4 separate regions of the Homo sapiens genome follow, and all the other regions are linked to region 1. Evidence: fine-mapped expression QTL. A gene starts in region 1. Each other region holds a variant in brackets. All regions are shown on one strand. Distances are between the middles of the regions.

Region 1 (5,155 bases):
TCTTAAAGATTTCTTTTTTCACACTTGTGAGATTCTCCTAAGAAACAGGTGAATAAAAGGAGAAAAACTGAAATTGTTCACTGAAAATTCAAAAGGAAAAGATAAATAAAAGGGATTCTGTAAAACATAAAGATTTCTCTAGCAACACAGATCCCCTTAAGTCAATTAATGAATGAATAATAAATATAATTTTTGTATGACTAAGTTTATAATTAATTTCCATCTATATGTTCTAAGTAATTTTATTAAACAAAATCAGAGTGGAGGGAAAATAAGGGAAACAATCCCAAGATTGTCTTGAACAAAACCAGAGAGCTGAACTAGCTGATGGGGGAAATACCTATTACCTTGTCAACAATTTTGTGACTAATTAGTCCTTAAACCTGAGAGAAAAGATCCCACCCAAAGATTTGATTAAATATAAAAACTCTCCTGACTCCAAGGTTTGATCATTTTAACACTGACCTGACGAAAACAGCAATACTGTTCCTAGCAATAAATATACTCAAATTCTGATAATGATTCAACTAACACTTTTAGCATCCTTCCATATTGGATCTTACAAATGTACTATAAACTAACTCTTGGTTTTTGTCACATAAAGAAGGGGCTCTCCATTTGCTTACACCTAACTTCTACTGAACACACAGTTCTGTACAACTTGATCCCTGGAGGTGGGCCTCTGTTCTCTGACCTTTTATTTTTCTAAATTTCTATTACTTTTCTCTACCATTCATCTCAGGATGACTTTATATTGCCTTAAATTTGTTGTAATTTTTTCCATGTATACATTACGTTTTATTATTCTTGAGGACTACCCACATTAACTAAGATAGACTGATTGTATGATGAGATTTAAGTAAATTCTTACTTATCAATTATTAATAAATTTCTTCAAAGAAGAAATTGCCGAGAGTGAGGTATTTTTCAATTCTAATTAAATTATGGGAAACTAGAACAATAAGCCAGTGAATTGTGGTAGAAGCCCAAGCCTGAATTTTCAGCTGTTAAACATCCCCCTCAAAATAATAATAGCTATTTTAAAAAATCAAACTTATTGCAGCTGATATACCATAAATATCAAAAAATTGAAAACTCAACCAGAAGGCATTTCATTCTATTTTATGATAGTCATGAAGCAGTGCAAAAACATTTAAGGAACACTCTGAAGATGGAATAAATGATGTTTTAAGAAACAGAAATAAGAGGATTTACCAAGCAAACAGAATGAAATTAAGAGTAGAGTTGAAAATGGCAAGACAGCTACTATTTTTCAGTTTTATTTTATTTTTAATTGACAACTGTACATATTTATGAGGTACAAAGTGATATTTTGATACACATATACATGTGGAATGATCAAATCAGAGTAATTAGCGTACCCATTATCTCAAATTTTTATCAGTTCTTTGTGGTGAGAACATTTAATAGAAAGTAAATGTATTCTATTGGAAGCTCAAGTTACTGGTTTCCAGCTGTTACAGCTGAAAGAAAGAGGGAGGAAGGCAGGGAGTAATGGGGAAAAGGAGGGAGGGGAAAGAAAACAGAAAAGGGGGAGCGGGAACATGCAATATTCTTTCAGAGTTAAGAAACTTAATCTGACAGGTTTATAGAATTTCGTTGGAACCTAGAGCAAAATCACAATGGCTGAAGCGTCAATCAGGCCTATAAAAACATCTGTGTTTAGTTTAAATGACTAAGGGTGAAATACATCAGCTTATGGAAAATGGGGAGGGCTCCCAGTATTTGGCCAGCGTTCTAGGTGATGGATGTTGATGAGCAATTCCCTTCAACAACTGATTTACTGCCAACGGACAAAATGCTGGAAGCACATCCAAAAACTTATCTGCAATTAAAATTACAAGCAAGTGGTCACTCTGTTCACCTCCTTTACCAGAGAGGTGACCCTGCTCCCGGCAACTACCTCCACCCAAGGGCCACAGAAGAACTCCTCCTTCCTCTAACCCTCTTTCCTTGGCCTCAAACCTCACGGTAAAACCTGCCTTGCTCTGTCTCCCAATCGCTTTTGTAAAGGAAGCTGGGTGTAGAGCTCTTCTTTCTCCCTCCCTTCCTTTTTTCTTTCCTTCCTTCCTTTCTTCCTTCCTTCTTCCATGCCTTTCTGTCTTTCCAAATTCATTGCTTTGTAAGAAACATTCTCAGATCACCTCCACTCCACTAGAAATCCAACGCAGGCGAGTCGGAGTCAAGCACAGGCAGTGGGCGGGTGGCCTCAGCCGGCACCATCTGGCACCTGCGATTCATCGCCACTTTCCATTCGCCCAGAGGTCAGGGGGGCAGCAGGCAAAGGACACGCAGAGCTCGTGTGTCCCAGTTCCTCTGAAACTTTCAGCTGACCGCACCCTCCCCCGACAAACTCTTTAATCATCCATCAAGCTAGAAGAGTACAGTGACCTCTGCCTGGCCTTTGGAGTTTGCAAAAGAAGCAAGCAATAAAAAGCAAGACCAGGTTCGCCCCTTTGCTTCCTCCACCTCCCAAGAGCAGCGCGCAGCGCGGCGGTGCGGCCGGAAGGGGCCGCTGTTTGCTCAGCGCAGCCACCCCGCCGCTGCAGCCGCCGCGGCCCGCACCTCCCACGGCCGGGCTGGTCCAGCCCCGCCAAGTTCCAACAGCCCCCCCTCGAGCGAGCGCCGGGAACGAGCACCACCAGGGCTGGAGCGGACGGCTTTAGAAGAGCCTAGCTGCTGCGCGCGTCGGAGAGGCTCCTGGGAAACTCCCACGGCCCAGGGACTTTCGAAAGCAGAGCGAGGAGCCCTCGCACGCGCTAGTCTGCGAGTGAGCGCTCAGCCCGGCACCTGTTCCTCCAGCGCCGCCGCCTTCCCACCCCTCGGACCCGCGCCGCTCGCGGCGCCCGCCCGTTCCTGCGATGAATCCGGCCCTAGGCAACCAGACGGACGTGGCGGGCCTGTTCCTGGCCAACAGCAGCGAGGCGCTGGAGCGAGCCGTGCGCTGCTGCACCCAGGCGTCCGTGGTGACCGACGACGGCTTCGCGGAGGGAGGCCCGGACGAGCGTAGCCTGTACATAATGCGCGTGGTGCAGATCGCGGTCATGTGCGTGCTCTCACTCACCGTGGTCTTCGGCATCTTCTTCCTCGGCTGCAATCTGCTCATCAAGTCCGAGGGCATGATCAACTTCCTCGTGAAGGACCGGAGGCCGTCTAAGGAGGTGGAGGCGGTGGTCGTGGGGCCCTACTGACCCGCCCTCTGCCCCCGCGGCAACCGCTCCCACGCCTGCCCACTTTGCTAGCCCGGCTGTGCCCCTCACTATCAGAGACTGGGCGAAGCAAACCTGTCGGAGTCAATTATTTCTCTCGACTTCGGCCTTTCGGAAAGAAGCGACCGGTTTCTCCCTCGCCCTCTGAAAGTCCTCATGCCTGGCAGTCGGAGGAGAGCGCCCAGACTCTGAACTCAGCAGAAAGTGGCAAGAAGAGGGCGATTAGGGCGCAGAACTTTGGAAGCTGCTACTTACTTGGAATGCGGGGAGACCGACGGTGCGAAGGCCCTTCTCCACCCGCAGGTGGGCCAAGCTCTGGGGGCAGGTGGAGAGGGCGGGCAGGGGAGAGACCCAGCGGCACTGATCGCCTTGTGACCGGAAGAGTGACCTGTTAAAAGCCACGCAGCAGACTCATGGGGTCTCACAAATCCGTGTCCGGGTGCGCTCCCACTCTTCTCCTGCTCCCCCCCTGCCCTGGAGGGGAGGGGCGATAAATACCTTTGATTGTAACGTGCCGTTTTAAGAGGTTTTGTGTTTGTTTGCTTGAATACAAATGTTTGATAAGTCTTTTTCTGCCCCAGTGGCCTGTTTGCCTGCCTGAGGAGTTACAGTTTTGTCATTGTGGGAGAAGGGGTGGGGGGAGGGGGAGCCTGCGAATTTGAACGGGGTGAGTTGTTTCTTTTAGTGCATTTCCCACTGGGTCTTTTGGGAGGCGTCTAGCGTTCCTGCTGGCCCTGGGACAAAGACCCAGAATAGAACTCGTAGCTCGTGACTGCACGGTTTACGCCACAAAAGTGCTCTTGACATCCGTGACACCGTTTTGACTTTTTGTTTTTTTCTTATTTAACATTTCCTTAATAAATGCAACATTTAAGCGTTTTGTTCCTGGCCTCCTGGTGGTCATTCTGCGCTCCCCAGCAGGGGGGAACGGGGCGGCGGTGAGGAGTCTGGCTCCCGGCCAGGGCAATTAACCCTGGAGAGCTGCGATTCAACTTGTGGATCCCCTGGAGGGGCGAGGGTGGGGCCAGACGGAGAGGCCCTGGGATGACTGAGAAGGAGCCCAGCCTCAGGCACAGTAGCCGTCCTGGAGGCAGCATCCTTTGTTTCCTCTTATCGTGAATATTTTATATTTCATTTAGTCTCAGCTCTCAGGTAGGCGAGACGACAGAAGGGCCCCCGCGGGAAGATTACACTTCCGTGCCAGGCTCCGGCGGGAACACAGGATTACACCGCTAATGAAAGGAAGAGACGGCTTGGACAGCCTTTAGGGAGGGCGTCTCTACCCTAACCAACGTCAGCCAGGCGGCTTTGGGATGCTGCCCACGGGTGGGGCCGGGGGGCGGAGGGAAGGGGAATTATAAAATGCGAGGAAAAGTAGCTGCTAAGGTACACAGTGACGTTAGTGACGTTAATGCTCCCTAGGGTAAACCATTGTTACTAAAACATGAGATGCATTACTGTCGTTGTGATATTACTTTTTCTAGCAAAAAGACCACGTTAAAAGATTCAGCCTGTTCTTTGTAATTTAGTATGCCCCAGACCAGGCAAAGGGTTGAGAGGAGTTAGCCGAGGTCCTGAATGTGGGAGATGAGTATTACAACCCCAACTGGGAAGGATATTTGGAGTAGAACTACAGATGGCCGTTGACACATTTAAGGTTCAGAAATTCAACAGTGTTAGAAAGAAACGCCTAAAAACCGTGCCTGTGAAAATAACCCAAAGGATACAATAGCTTCGAGCATAAACTTGACAAAAGGTTTTGAGCAGTTTATTTTTATGCCTGAGACAGGATCCTAAATATTTTCAAGACTATAAAGAATCCACTAGGATGCTATATAGCAATTAAAATTTCAAAGACTTCACAATGGCAGCTATAAGAGTAACTAAAATCAAATAATAATAAAGTGTTCCATTTACTCAGAAAG
Region 2 (5,155 bases), 27 kb after region 1:
TATATATATATACATAATTTCAACTTTCATTTTAGACTCAAGTTACCTGGGTATATTTTGTGATGCTGAGGTTCGGGGTACAATTGATCTTGTCACCCAAGTACTGAGCATAGTACTGAATAGTTAGGGTTTCAAGACTTGCCCTTCTCCATCCTTCCCTACTAGACCCCTCTAATAGTGTCAGTTGTTGCCAGCTTTATGGTCATGATTATCCATTGTTTAGCTCCTGCTTATAAGTGAGAACATGTGGTATTTTTTTATTATTTTTCTGCATTAACTTGCTTAGGATAATGGTCTCCAGCTGCATTCATGTTGCTGCAAAAGATGTGATTTCATTCTTATTTATGGATGCATAGTATTCTATGGTGTATATGTACTACATTTTCTTCATCCAATCCACTGTTGATGGGCACCTACTCTGGTTCTACGTCTTTGTTATTGTGAATAGTCCTGTGATGAACATATGAGTGCATGTGTCTTTTCGGTAGAATAATTTATTTTATTTTGGCTATACACCTAGTAATGGGATTGCTAGTTTGAATAGTAGTCCTGTTGTAAGTTCTTTGGGAAGTCTCCAAACTGCTTTCCACAGTGGCTGAACTAATTTACATTCCCTCCAACAGTGTAAAACTATTCTCTTTTCTCTGTAGCCTTACCAGCATCTGCTGTTGTTTGACTTTTTAATAATAACAATTCTGACTGGTGTGAGATGGTAACTCACTGTGGTTTTGATTTGCATTGCTCTGAAGATTAGTGATGTAGAGCATTTTTTAATGTTTGTTGGCTGCTCATATGTCTTCTTTTGATAAATGTCTGTTCATATCTTTTGCCAATTTTTAATGGGGTTATATATTGTTTATTGTTCAATTGTTTAAGTTCCTTATGGATTCCAGATATTTGGCCTCTATGGAAAGCACAGTTTGCAAATATTTTCTCCCATTCTGTGGGCTGTCTGTTTAGTCTGTTGATAGTTTCTTTCGGTGTGCAGAAGCTCTTTAAGTTAATTAGATTCCACTTGTCAATTTTTGTTTTTGTAGCGATTGCTTTGGAGGACTTAGTCATAAATTCCTTCCCAAGGCCAACATCCAGAATTGTGTTTCCTAGGTCTTTTTTCTGGGATTCTTGTAGTTTGATGTCTTACATTTAAATCTTTAATCCATCTTGAGTTAATATTTGAATATGGTGAGAGGTAGTGGTCTAGTTTCATTCTTCTGCATATGGCTAGCCAGCTATTCCAGCACCATTTATTGAATAGGGTGTCATTTTTCCACTTATTAACTTCGATGGCTTAGATCAGATGGTTACAGCTGTGCAACTTTGTATCGGGGTTCTCTATTCTGTGCCATTTATCTGTATGACTATTTTTGTGCCAGTACCATGCTATTTTGATTATTATAGCCTTATAGTATAGTTTGAGGTCAGGTATGTAATGCCTCCAGCTTTGTTGTTTTTGCTTAGGATTGCTTTGCTTATTCTGGGTCTTTTTTGGTTTCATATAAATTTTAGAATAGTTTTTCTCTGGTTCTATGAAAAACAATATTGGTTGCTTAATAGGAATAGCTTGAATCTGTAGATTTCTTGGGGCAGTATGAACATCTTAACAGTATTGATTCTTGCAATCCATGGGCATGGAATGTTTTTCCATTTGTTTGTGTCATCTATGATTTCTAAGACTATCATTCTATTATGATTTAAATGATAATACTAGATAGAAAGAAACTACTTTTGTATTGAAATGCTGTAAAATATTTTATTTCACTTAACACTAAATTCATATGATACTCATATTCTTTTTCTTTTTTTTGAGATAGAGTCTCACTCGGTTTCCTAGGCTGGAGTGCAGTGGTGCAATCTCAGCTCACTGCAACCACCTCATGGGTTCAAGCGATTCTTTCACCTCAGCCTCCCAAGTAGCTGGGACTACAGGCACCCTCCACCACGACCAGCTAATTTTTGTATTTTTAGTACAGACAGGATATTCTCTTATTTTTAAATTAAGAAGATACTTTTAATTCTGCAATTTGTGATTTGGTCAGAAAATCACATACAAATTTCAGGAAAATAAGCATATTCTTATGCCGTATGTTTTGTTGTTTGGGCCACAGCATCAGTTGGAAGGAAGCTCTCTAAGCAGGCAAAAAGAGCATCAAGTGCTGAAAGTGTAAACACTAAGTTATAAAATTCTCATGAAAACTTGTTAACCAAAACCAAACCAATGTCAGTTACAGAAGCTGTACAAGCGATGCTGGCTGTTTAGGAGGTTGTCCTTCAGATGCTTGCCAATGCAACATTTGATTATAACCTATATGAAAGAGAATCCACATTTTTTAGTCAGGAAGCCAAGGCTTCCAAAACCAGCCTTGAAGGTAAATGAATCCTCCACTCAGTCCCAGGAATCCCCCATCTAGCTGCTTCATGAGCCTGCCAATCAAAAGCAAGTCACCTGTGTCTGCACCTACCTGCCGCCTGGGGCTAGAACTCTAATTGCAGTGAGAAGGGAAAGCAGCAGTCATTCTGACACTGCCTGGGGACACTATTTCCCATTTCTTTCACAGTAAATTTACAGTATCGAAAATGAAATTTCCTCCCAAGTTCCGTTTTAGTTCAAAACAAAAACATACAGTACACTGGAATTACTGTAAAACGCTAGTTTTGGTGGAGCACATCGGAGTGCATTATGTGGATGTGATATTTAACTCTCACTTTCTCTTTCTATACTGCATAAACTTGGGCAAATTTCTCTTGCTAAAATGGAGCA[G/C]AAAGAATTTAATGTAATTTAGTAGTCTCCAGCAGCCTCATGCACTTGGGGGAGAGCAGTATTATTTGATAATGATAATGGTGATGAAGGCACTCATACTTTGCGAATTTCTTACCAAGTTTGAGAAGAGAAAAATTATGTACATTTACAAATTATAATAGACTTAAGCTAAGAAGGTTTTTGTGACAATAAATGATGTTACATATGGGTTGGAAGAGGTTACTGAAAACAGGCTAAAGCTAATTCCAGTATTGGGTGAGAAAAGAATCTTATTTACTAGATTAAAATGTATAAAGGAACACACAATTTACTAATGAATGCTGATGATTTTAGGTCAAAATATATTTTCTGAGGTTATAAATTAGATTATTTTTATAGTTTCAATTAAACTATTAGTATATTAATACTTAATTATAATACTTTTTGATGGAGGCTGAAAATATACAGCAATTGGGAAGAAAGCACATCATGCCTCCCTGGGGTGTTTGATAAATATCAAAGTATGACAATGAATTGTGTACAGAACATGCTTTATTTGTATTTATGGTTGAACTTCATAGAAAAACTTCTCTGTGAGACATTAGATAGGTCCTAACTAAAATATTGTATCATGTTTACTTTCATCCATCTTTTGAAACATGCTATGGAAAACTGAAGGTCCTATGGAAAGAAATCAAAATAAAGAACATACTTGCACAAGTTTCCAAGTGAAAGCCCATCAAAGTTTCTTTTGGTCAATTGCAACTGGCTACTATTACATAAGAGGGACATTTTAATGGCCTGATAAGTGTGCTACCATATTACAAGGTCAGCTTCACTTCATTGTAAAATGCTTTGGAAGACTGACTGATATGTGTTCATCGGAATATAATAGACATCTGCAATCAAATTCTATCCAGAGAATTTTCTGGGCACAATTTAAAGTGTGGACCAAAAAAAAAAAAAATTCAAACCTAGGGGTATAGGACTCAATTATCTGTGGGAATCAGAACTTATCATCCAATACATCATCTAAAGAACAATTAAAGATTTTACTGAAGCAGTCAGTGACAAAACCAGCGTCTGAGTTCACGATTTCTCTGAGCCTCCTAGTGTTAAATTTGATCATGGATCATTTTGCTTCAATCATTTTTTTTTCATTCAAACTGAAAAATATTTATAACAAAAACTAACTTGTTGAGTAAGATGGGGAGGAAAAAAGAAATATGAGTGAAAATAAAAAGTGAATGCAGCAACGTATAATATGCTGGAAGAAACTTAATTTGCAGTTTTGCTGTTTAAATGCATTATGAGTTATGAGAATAACAGAGGAAGACTTTAGTAGAAAATGATGGTAGAATAGGCTTCACATTACTAATCTGACAAGTCAGAGTGGTTACATGAACTCTCCAACAATTATTACCTGAAAGATTCATTCTAAACCCTGAACGATGAAGCCTTGTTAAGTAAAATGCCTCTGTAGCAGTCAACTCTATCCAAGCCATACTCTGGGTTTTTCAACCAGAAAGATTTACTACAGAAAACTGTTTTCCAGATTATATTGTTTGAATAGGTTCCCTCCAAAATTCTGGCATTGAAACTTGGTCAATGTGATGTTATTAAGAGGTATGGCCTTTAAGAGGTGATTAGGTCATAAAGGCTTTTCCCTTCATGAATGGAATTATGACCCTTATATAAAAGTAGATGCAAGTAACATGTATCCCACTTACCCTTCCACCTTCTGTCATGTGAGGACACTGTTTCTCCCCTCTGGAGGATGTAGCAACAAGGCACTATTTGAAAGCATAGAGCAGCCCTTACAAGACAACTGAATCTGCTGCCACCTTGATCTTGGACTTCCAGCCTCCAGAACTGTGAGAAAATAAATTTATCTTCTTTATAAATTACCCAGTCTTAGGTATTTTTGTTATAGCAACACAAAACAGACTAAGACAATAGATAACGCAATTGTTGAGAAACAAGTAGAGGTGAGTAGTGCAAAGATAGATTGGCAACAGCAAGAAGCCATTACCATCTCTAGGGCAGGAGGGACAATGGAAGGGAGCGCTTTCCACTGTGTGGGAGCCAGAGGCATGGGGGAAAAAACATCTTGGTCAGAAGTGGGATCTCAGGGTGCATGTCTTCTTTGAGGGACTGGAGTTATGAAAGAGAAGCACTTGCAGAGACAACACAGGATGCAGAAGGAAATGGTGAGAAGTAAGCAGACCTCCCCCTCCTCCTGTCCTCAAACTGTTGACCCCCACCTTCTGGTATTCGGTTTGGGCTTCCATAAAAAAATACCATAGACTGGGTAACTTAAAAAGCACAGAAATATTTTCTTACAGTTCTAGGGGCTAGAAGTCCAAGATCAAGTTTCTGGCCAATTCAGTTTTTGGTGAGGGCTCTGTTCCTGGCTTG
Region 3 (5,155 bases), 160 kb before region 1:
AATAAAATACTCATTGATAACATGCATCTAAAGGCTCCAAGAAAATGCAAAAAACTTGCTGTTATATTTCTCTCTCCTCCCTGTGTTCTCTTTTTGAAAACAAGCCTGATAAGAAGTAATAACATTAGGAAAGCTTGAATTCTCAGTTCTTCTTTATTCTATCCTACTATCTAGAGAGGTTTATCAGTAACAAAATGTAGATGAAGAATAACTGAAGAAAAAACAAAAAAAGGCAGGAAAAGGAAGCCAAAATTGGAATTTCCACTGCATAAGAACAGCTTTTGGATTCACCCTGAGGTACTGTTAGTTAATTAAAGATCATGTGATAGATTGCAGTATCTTTTGCTTCCTTCCAGTTAGAATATTCAATTCAATTGAAATGAGGCAATGTGGACTTCAAAGGGAATTAATACATCATATAGATACGCTCATTCATAAGATTCGATCATTTTAGAGATTAGCAATTTGGTATATGACCAGAGATATATTATTACAAGCTTGAATAACCATAAATGATGTTATAATTTAATCAGGTAAAATGGAGCTTCAGACCTTATTTTCTTTATTTCTTTGTAAAAGGACATTTCACCTTTTTTTGGTGCCTATTATCGAATTTAATGCAGTCCCTGTCAATAAAATATACCTTATATTTGACCCAGTAGTTCATCACTGTAATTCATACTATCACCTTGACAGAGATACAGAGCACCTCTTCACAGGATCATTTTACTTAAAGACATGTATCAAGTCACCTTCTAACCTTATCCTCTCCAGGCTAGACTATGTCAACTGATTTATCTTGCCTTCAAAGATTCTACTTTCTTACTGTAATAATTTCTTTAAGTCTTCTCTATTTTCCTCTAAATTCCTAGCAATGTAGGAACAAATATTTGAACATGTTATTTCAGAGGGTTTAAATGGTACACAGCATTAGGAAAGCAGTAAGAGCCCTGGCCCTACTAGAAGGAAGAGAAGCCTGGATTCCAGCACTATTTTGATGATTGATGAGAGGTTCCTTGAGTTTGCAAAACTGAGCTTCAATTTCTCCAAATTTAAAAACCAGAAATATCCTATTTTATCTAACAAGGTCTTTGATTGGGGTGGGAGAACGTTTGAATTTAAAGCATTTTGTAACTGTAACTATTATTATTTTCTGCTAACCACAGTCAAAAAGGAAATTCTGCCTATTAAATAAAAACTACGAGAAGCCTTTTTACACATTAATATCAACTGAGGATACCACCTTTCTGTTTTTAAAATAGTTGAAAACTATTAAATAAAGTATGATTCTGCACCTATTCACTGGGACATATTTAATTTTTTAAAATGTAGTATATGCTGTTCTGGTTTTCATTAAAGTCAGTAATAGGGAGCAGAGGGGAATATTAAAAAATAACTAGGTAATTGCTTGTCTTAGTTTAAACTATTTTCCCCTTCAAAATGTGACTGCATTTTGAGTGTGTGGAATTAAATATAAGTGGGTATGTAGTTAGCATGGTGAAGGGGGGAATTAGACAGAAAAAATCTTTTTATATAACGGGCGTTTTGTGTCTGATTTCTTTCCCAGCATGCTAAAAATGTAATCACCAAATGTGAAATAGAAATGCATGGAGTTCGGAATTTCCTCTTCACAGTGTTCTCATCCCACATCAACACACATACATCCTTCAAGTTTACACATTTAGCTTCTATTTAATACATCATTCAAACAAGGCATTTTCTCTTATGTTTCTTTTTACCCCTGCCTCAAAGCATCTGAAATTTCAAAAAGCCTTTTCTTAAACATGTACAAAAAAAAACATGATACTAGAAAGAAATTAAAGCCTCAAACTTATCAGTGAAGTCTTTGAAGTTTACTGACTTATGCTACAGGGAAACCACAGATATGCAATATTTGAATATTTCCAGTCAGTAGCATAAAATTAGTGGAGTTACACAGAGTAGTTGTGGACACAGAGCCACCTGACCTTTCCGTATCCAAAGATACGAATGAGTTCCAAGACAGTGGGTGGTGCCTCTTCAACTCTGCAGAATTCATCCTAGGCTATAAACTTTTAAATATCTACATTTCCAACTTCTTGCCCTAATTTACTTTTAGTATCACAAAATTTCTTACAGTCATCCAAATAATTGTTTTCTTAAATCTTGAAGACTGAAAGGTAAGTTAAAAACAAACGTATACACATATACATATATATGTGTGTATATATATATACATATATATGTGTATATATATATATATATACATATTTACTGTACTATGAGTAGAGAGTTCTAGAAAAAATCTGTTTAAAGTTTCTTGGTTGCAAATACCAGGAACTCCCTTCAAATTACCTGAAGCAAAAGAAAATGCATTGTGGAAAGGTAGTGTACTATCTTTTATGATTGCCACTTGGGGGATGGCAAAATTT[C/G]TCAGAAAAAAATGTTTCAACTGGGCAGGAAGCCTAAACTGGGTCTACCAAAGGATCAAAGGAAAATAATAAAGCACATGCTTTGCTTCAAGAGTCTCACCTCCATTTGCCTTTCTTAGAAAGTGGTTTTTTTTTCCCCTGCTTTCAAGAACAAATTTCCTCTAAAGTAGTTATCAGTTCCACACTTCTTAGAAACTAATGCTTTCTAAAATCACTCTGCTTTAGCACCTAATTTTTCTCAACTTCAGTTTTCACATTCGCAAATTAGAGATCAAGATGCCTGCCTCCCAGAGGTAAGAGAGAACCACAGGAAGAGAAAGCAAGTTAAAAAAAAAAAATCTATAGCAGTGCTTAGTGTGTAATTTGTGCTCAGTAAAGATTTTCAGCTGGGCATGGTGGCTCACGCCTGTAGTTCCAGCACTTTGGGAGGCCGAGGCAGGCAGATCACGAGGTCAGGAGTTCAAGACCAGCCTGGTCAATATGGTGAAACCCCGTCTCTACTAAAAATACAAAAATTAGCCGGGTGTGATGGTGCACACCTGTAGTCCCAGCTACTCGGGAGGCTGAGGCAGAAGAATCGCTTGAACCCAGGAGATGGAGGTTGCAATGAGCTGAGATCGGGCCACTGCACTCCAGCCTGGGTGACAGAGCGAGACTCCATCTCAGAAAAAAAAAAAAAAAAAAAAAAAAGATTTCCATCTTTTTTCAATCATCAAAAGTTAGTATCATAATGAACCACTTCTCCCAAGGATGAATGGATGAAGAAGAGAGTCTAGGAGTATGGATTTCATGTCTTTACCTCTCAGAGTAGATGTCATCAAGAACAATTATAAAATGTCCCATCAGTGTATTATCAGAAAGAAGTGTGAGTTGAATAGACATGTACTACATTCTATTACTTTCATGATTCATACAATTTTCAACAAAAGTGCTCTTCTGAATATAAGTGTAGGTTACATAAAAGGTAAGAGTTCTAATTTGGTTAATTACTTATGCTTATTTTCTTAGTTATGTTCAAGTGTTTTTTCTGAATAAAATCATAAAACTTAAAATTATGTGTGACTCATTTACTAAATAATTTTCCCGGTGGTTCTGGACTACTGACTCCCTGTATAACTTCTGTTTGTGTTCCTGACAATTCACCAATATGCCACACAAAGTTATGGAAATTCTTCTGCATTACATCTGACATCTTTCAATGAGACGATGGAAAATGATGATCTTTAATTCAACAGCACTCAAAAGGTAGCTAATTTGATTTTTAAATCTTTAGGGTCTGTAGAATTTAAGTCAGACATCGGAAATTATTAAAAGAAAAGATTGACAGTTCTGTCCACAGACTTTATTGGTTATAATAAGATATTTATAAAACCATAATGCTAGAGAAAAAAGTACTATAAATGTTTTGCTATGAAAAATGCAGAGGCTTTTATACAGGATGCCAAAGCCATAATAAAGACTTTCATAAATCTCTAGCATCACAGTTCCAAAGATTGGGGAATTCTGAAAATACGCTAAGAAGACTATCCTTGGAAATAGATCACTCACTGGACACCTTAGCTAGCCACTCCTGAAAAACATGGCAAAGAGGAACAAGCTGGTAAACTACAACAGGTAATTCACCACCAGGTGATAAATGTCTCCTATGGTGAAAAATATTGTAGTAGGCAAACAAAGAGGAGGCATTTCTTGGAAGAGGTGATGGCTTCAAAATGTCTGTAAATAACATATATCTAGAATCTATCTATATGAAACATTCTTAAAACTTTGAAAGGAAAAAACCTAATATTTGCTCAAGTTTATTATCATCTACAATGGTGAAAGGGAGTAAACTGAATGGGAAAAAAATGACTACTTGGTGAGATAATGTCTTATTTTATGTGTAGCTTAAGCATATTTATTTCTTCTAAGAAGAATACTTTATATCCTCAGCTGTGTGATTCAGAAATATGAATTGAACTGCACACAAATACAACCTGAGGGATAGGGGAAACATAGATTATATTTTCTATTTTGTATATGTTGGAAATTAAAGGTATGCTTAGCCATTTCCTTGAATTTCAGTTTCCCAAAATGGGAAGTAACCAAGATGCCTTGTATAGGTATAAAGGAACAAACAAACTATGGTATACCATGCAGCGAAATATTATTTATTAATATAAAAATAGATGGCGCTGCGTATGGTGGCTCACGCCTGTAATCCCAGCACTTTGGGAGGCCGAAGCGGGTGGATTAATTGAGGTCAGGAGTTCGAGACCAGCCTGGCCAACATAGTGAAACCACATCTCTACTAAAAAAAAAGTGCCAAAAAAATTAGCTGGGCGTATTGGTGTGTGCCTGTAATCCCAGCTACTTGGGAAGCTGAGACAGGAGAATTGCTTGAACCCAGGAGGTGAAGGTTGCATTGCGCTGAGATTGCCCCACCTCACTCTAGCCTGGGCAAAAAGAGTGAGACTCCATCTCAAAAATAAATACATAAATAAAATAAAAAATAAATAAATGAGCTATCAAATCATGAAAAAACACAGATAAATCTTTAATGCATATTATTAAATAAAGGAAACCATTCTCAAAAGGCTACATGCTATATGATTCAAATTGTATCCTATATGTTTTATTTTATAAAAAAGGTAAAACTATTGAGATAGTAAAACTACAGAGGGAGTGCAAGAATCAGTGGTTTCCAGGGGATAAGGGGTGGAGTTTGGGAAGGATGAACAGGTGGAGCACAGGGGATTTTTTCA
Region 4 (5,155 bases), 62 kb before region 1:
AAACACACACTCCATTAAGAATGCAGAATGTGTTCTTATGTATAATTATCAATTTATATAATTTACATTACAAGATCACAAATGCTTTAATAAAGGTTTATGACCTTGTAATATAATTATAAATTTATTTTTGCTACTTCTAGAGAAAGATAGCATCTTATTTTTCACTGAGTCTCTAGCTCTTCTAAATGGGCTGGTCACAGGGCATGCACTCAACAGTAAGATGTAGGCAGGTACAATAAACACAAGAATTATTGTCTTCCTTCAGCTTCTGTGAGATGATTCTTCTCTGGCCATTCCTTCTCAGTCTCCTTTGTGGTCTCCATTTCCTCTGTTCAACTGTTCAACCAATCTTATATATGGGTATTGCCAAGCATTCACCTCCAACCTTATAGTATTTCCACTCAACAGATTATTTCTGGGCAACCTCATCTACAAACTTGTTTTAAAGCAGAGGCTTCCAAATTGCAGCTTCCAAGGCAATCAATGGGGCGTGGAAAGAAATTATCAAAACTTCTATTTACAGATATATTTTTATCTCAGCCTTTTAAAATTTCTATTTATAATATGCATTGCACACAAAATCATATAAGTCATTATAAATACATGTAAAGTTGGTTACATGCTCAAAATTTTATTAGATGTGTACTTTTATTGATGAGATATAGCATATATAAAATATATATGACTGCCTCCACAAGCAATGGGGTAGAAGTCGAATTCATGCTCACCAAATCTGTTGGTCTTGACAAAGATTCTTTGCTTGACCAAACTTTTGTCAGATTCCTGAAACTTCTCCTAGGCCTAGCTATGCAACTTCTTGCAAGTTTCAGTTTTCAACAAAAACCTTGATAGGGTTGTTTAGCCAGAATCCCCCATCCTTCATATCTGATCACCCTCAATAGCTAGTTGGGTTCTTCATCCTCTACCATCCCTCAAGTGATGTCTGATCACCCTGGCCTGTCTTCAGCAAGAATCCTGTTAGTTCAGTTTAATCAAAATATTCCTTACCCCTGATGTTTCCTCTTCATAATTTTCCATCTACTGATCCCCAACTTGGCCCCTTGCTATAAATTCCTAGTTGCTCAAGCTGTATTCAGAACTGAGACCCATTCTATACTTAAATCTCTTTTCTCCTATTGCAATAGTCCTGAATAAAATGTGCTTCTACTTCCGGTTTTTTTTTTGTGTGTGTGTGTGTTTGTTTGTTTGTTTGTTTGTTTTTTGAGATGGAGTTTTGCTCTTATTGCCCAGGTTGGAGTGCAATGGCATGATCTCAGCTCACTGCAACCTCCACCTCCTGGGTTCAAGTGATTCTCCTGCCTCAGCCTCCCAAGTAGCTGGGATTACAGACCTGTGCCACCACGACTGGCTAATTTTTTTGTATTTTTAGTAGAGATGGGGTTTCAACATGTTGGCCAGACTGGTCTTGAACTCCTGACATCAGGTGTTCCACCCGCCTCAGCCTCCCAAAATGCTGGGTTTACAGGGGTGAGCCACTGTACCCGGCCTTTAATTACTGTTCAGCTCTAGTATTCGTTTGCAACTTGTCAGGGCCAAGAGAAAATATCCCCTTCACCCTTTGAAGGTTCATTTAAAAATTACTGACTAGAGGCAGATGGATAGGAGAAAAGGCATAGAAATGTATTTGATCATAGTTTCATATAACACAAGAGCTTTCAGAATGAAGGCCCAAAGATACAGGGGAAATTGTCCATTTTTATGCTTATGTTCAACAAACTATGGGCAACTGTATAGAAATACGTTGAACAAAAAAGCTAATGCTAATAACTGAGTGGGGAAACCAAGCAAGCCCTGTCCAGCTAGATTCTTCCTGTTTTCTCTAAGCATGTATTCCCCTCCTTTCTGAGGTTAAGCCAGGACACCCTCTGGAATGAAGGTCTTATGGCCTACAATCAAACAAGGTAGATCAGATAATTTATTTATGACCAGTTTTTACACAGAAACGCAGGGGAGAAGGTTAGAGTAATAATTGTAGGTTTTATGACTGGCTTTGGGGAAAGGTGTTCTGGTTTCTATGACCCACACTGGAGAAGAAGGATTCTAGTTTCTATGGTGCCTTGAGAAAGAAGAGAAATGAGAGACAGGAGGGCAAGAGAAAGTCAGTCGATTAGTCCATTCTCACCCTGCTATAAAGAACTGTCTGAGACTC[G/A]GTAATTTATAAAGGAAAGAGATTTGATTGACTCACAGGTCAGCAGGATTAGGGAAGCCTCAGGAAACTTACAATCATGGCAGAAGAGGAAGCAAACACATCCTTCCTTCACATGGTGGCAGGAAGGAGAAGTGCAGAGCAAAGGAGGGAAAAGCCCCTTATACAACCATCAGATCTCATGAGAATTCACTCTCTATCATGATAACAGGGTGGGGGAACAACACCTATGATCTAATCACCTCCCACTGGGTCCCTCCCACAACACCTGGGGATTATAGGAGCTACAATTCAAGATAAGATTTGGGCAGGGACACAGCCAAACCATATCATTCCACCCCTGGCCCCTCTCAAATCTCATGTCCTCACATTTCAAAACAAAATCATGCCTTTCCAACAGTCCCCCAAAGTCTTAGCTCATACCAACATTAAGCCAAAAGTCCAAGTCCAAAGTCTCATCTGAGACAAGGCAAGTCCCTTCTGCCTATAAGCCTGTAAAATAGAAAGCAAGTTACTTACTTTCTAGATACAATGGGGGTACAGATATTGGGTAAATACACACATTCCAAATGGGAGAAATTGGTCACAACAAAAGAACCAAAGGCCTCATGCAAGTTTGAAACCCAGCGGGGCAGTCATTAAATCTTAAAGCTTCAAAATCTGCTTTGATTCCATGTCTCACATCCAGGTCACACTGTTGCAGGAGGTGGGCTCCCATGGACTTGGGCAGTTCTGCCCCTGCGGCTCAGTAGGATACAGGCCCGGGGGCTGCTTTCATTGGCTGCTGTTTAGTACCTGTGGCTGTTCCAGGTACATAGTGCAAGCTGTCAGTGGATTTACCACTCTGGGGTCTGGAGGATGGTGGCCCTCTCCTCACAGCTCTGCTAGGCAGTGCCCCAGTGGGGACTCTGTGTGGGAGCTCCAACCCCACATTTCCCCTCTTCATTGCCCTAGTAGAGGTTCTCCATGAGGACTTCACCCCTGCAGCAAACTTCTGCCTGGACATCCAGATGTTTCCATACATCCTCTGAATTCTAGGCAGAGGTTTCCAAACATCAACTCTTGTCTTCTATGCACCTGCAGGACCAATACCATATGGAAGCTGCCAAGGCTTGGGACTTGTACCCTCTGAAGCCATGGACTGAGCTGTACCTTGGCCCCTTTTAGACATGGCTGAAGTGGCCAGAATGCAGGACACCAAGTCTCTAGGCTGCACACAGCAGGGGGGCCCTGGACCAGGCCCACAGAACCGATTTATTCCTCGTAGGCCTTCAGGCCTCTGATGGGAGAGGCTGCCATAAAGGTCCCTGACATATCCTGGAGACATTTTCCACATTGTCTTGGCAATTAACATTTGGCTCCTCATTACTTGTGCACGTTTCTGCAGCTGGCTTGAATTTCTCCCCAGAAAATGGGTTTTTCTTTTCTACCATATTGTCAGGCTGCACATTTTCCAAACTTTTATGCTCGGTCACCTCTTAAATGCTTTGCTGCTTAGAAATTTCTTCTGCCTGACAATCCTAAGCCAAAAGAACAAAGCTGGAGGCATCACACTACCTGACTTCAAACTATACTACAAGGCTACAGTAACCAAAACAGCATGGTACTGGTACCAAAACAGAGATACAGATCAATGGAATAGAACAGAGCCCTCAGAAATAACGCCGCATATCTACAACTATCTGATCTTTGACAAACCTGAGAAAAACAAGCAATGGGGAAAGGATTCCCTATTTAATAAATGGTGCTGGGAAAACTGGCTAGCCATATGTAGAAAGCTGAAACTGGATCCCTTCCTTACACTTTATACAAAAATCAATTCAAGATGGATTAAAGACTTAAACGTTAGACCTAAAACCATAAACACCCTAGAAGAAAACCTAGGCATTACCATTGAGGACATAGGCATGGGCAAGGACTTCATGTCTAAAACACCAAAAGCAATAGCAACAAAAGACAAAGTTGACAAATGGGATCTAATTAAACTAAAGAGCTTCTGCACAGCAAAAGAAACTACCATCAGAGTGAACAGGCAACCTACAGAATGGGAGAAAATTTTCGCAACCTACTCATCTGACAAAGGGCTAATGTCCAGAATCTACAATGAACTCAAACAAATTTACAAGAAAAAAACAAACAACCCCATCAGAAACTGGGCAAAGGACATGAACAGACACTTCTCAAAAGAAGATATTTATGCAGCCAAAAAACACATGGAAAAATGCTCATCATCACTGGCCATCAGAGAAATGCAAATCAAAACCACAATGAGATACCATCTCACACCAGTTAGAATGGCAATCATTAAAAAGTCAGGAAACAACAGGTGCTGGAGAGGATGTGGAGAAATAGGAACACTTTTACACTGTTGGTGGGACTGTAAACTAGTTCAACCATTGTGGAAGTCAGTGTGGCGATTCCTCAGGGATCTAGAACTAGAAATACCATTTGACCCAGCCATCCCATTACTGGGTATATACCCAAAGGACTATAAATCATGCTGCTATAAAGACACATGCACACGTATGTTTATTGCGGCATTATTCACAATAGCAAAGACTTGGAACCAACCCAAATGTCCAACAATGATAGACTGGATTAAGAAAATGTGGCACATATACACCATGGAATACTATGCAGCCATAAAAAATGATGAGTTCATGTCCTTTGTAGGGACATGGATGAAATTGGAAATCATCATTCTCAGTAAACTATCGCAAGAACAAAAAACCAAACACTGCATATTCTCACTCATAGGTGGGAATTGAACAATGAGATCACATGGACACAGGAAGGGGAATATCACACTCTGGGGACTGTTGTGGGGTGGGGGGAGGGGGGAGGGATAGCATTGGGAGATATACCTAATGCTAGATGATGAGTTAGTGGGTGCAGCGCACCAGCATGGCACATGTATACATATGTAACTAACCTGCACAATGTGCACATGTACCCTAAAACTTAAAGTATAATAATAAAATAAAA

The links.
Region 2: its variant is fine-mapped to the expression of RPRM in whole blood (TOPMed, PIP 0.96).
Region 3: its variant is fine-mapped to the expression of RPRM in whole blood (INTERVAL, PIP 0.97).
Region 4: its variant is fine-mapped to the expression of RPRM in whole blood (INTERVAL, PIP 0.95).

Annotation. Positions count from the first base shown.
Region 1 is chr2:153,476,293-153,481,447 of GRCh38, reverse strand. It overlaps RPRM (reprimo, TP53 dependent G2 arrest mediator homolog), which reads left to right and starts at 2,686. Exons shown (of 1, transcript NM_019845.3): 1 at 2,686-4,110. The coding sequence starts at 2,883. The coding sequence ends at 3,212. It also overlaps a transcript of GALNT13 not described here. RefSeq lists a silencer at 2,452-2,651 and enhancers at 3,008-3,511, 3,512-4,015, 4,016-4,519.
Region 2 is chr2:153,449,127-153,454,281 of GRCh38, reverse strand. It overlaps a transcript of GALNT13 not described here. Among named protein-coding and RNA genes, the nearest start is that of RPRM, 27 kb to the left of the region's middle. The variant G/C (reference allele first, on the strand shown) is at 2,759.
Region 3 is chr2:153,632,489-153,637,643 of GRCh38, reverse strand. It overlaps a transcript of GALNT13 not described here. Among named protein-coding and RNA genes, the nearest start is that of RPRM, 160 kb to the right of the region's middle. The variant C/G (reference allele first, on the strand shown) is at 2,412.
Region 4 is chr2:153,538,392-153,543,546 of GRCh38, reverse strand. It overlaps a transcript of GALNT13 not described here. Among named protein-coding and RNA genes, the nearest start is that of RPRM, 62 kb to the right of the region's middle. The variant G/A (reference allele first, on the strand shown) is at 2,174.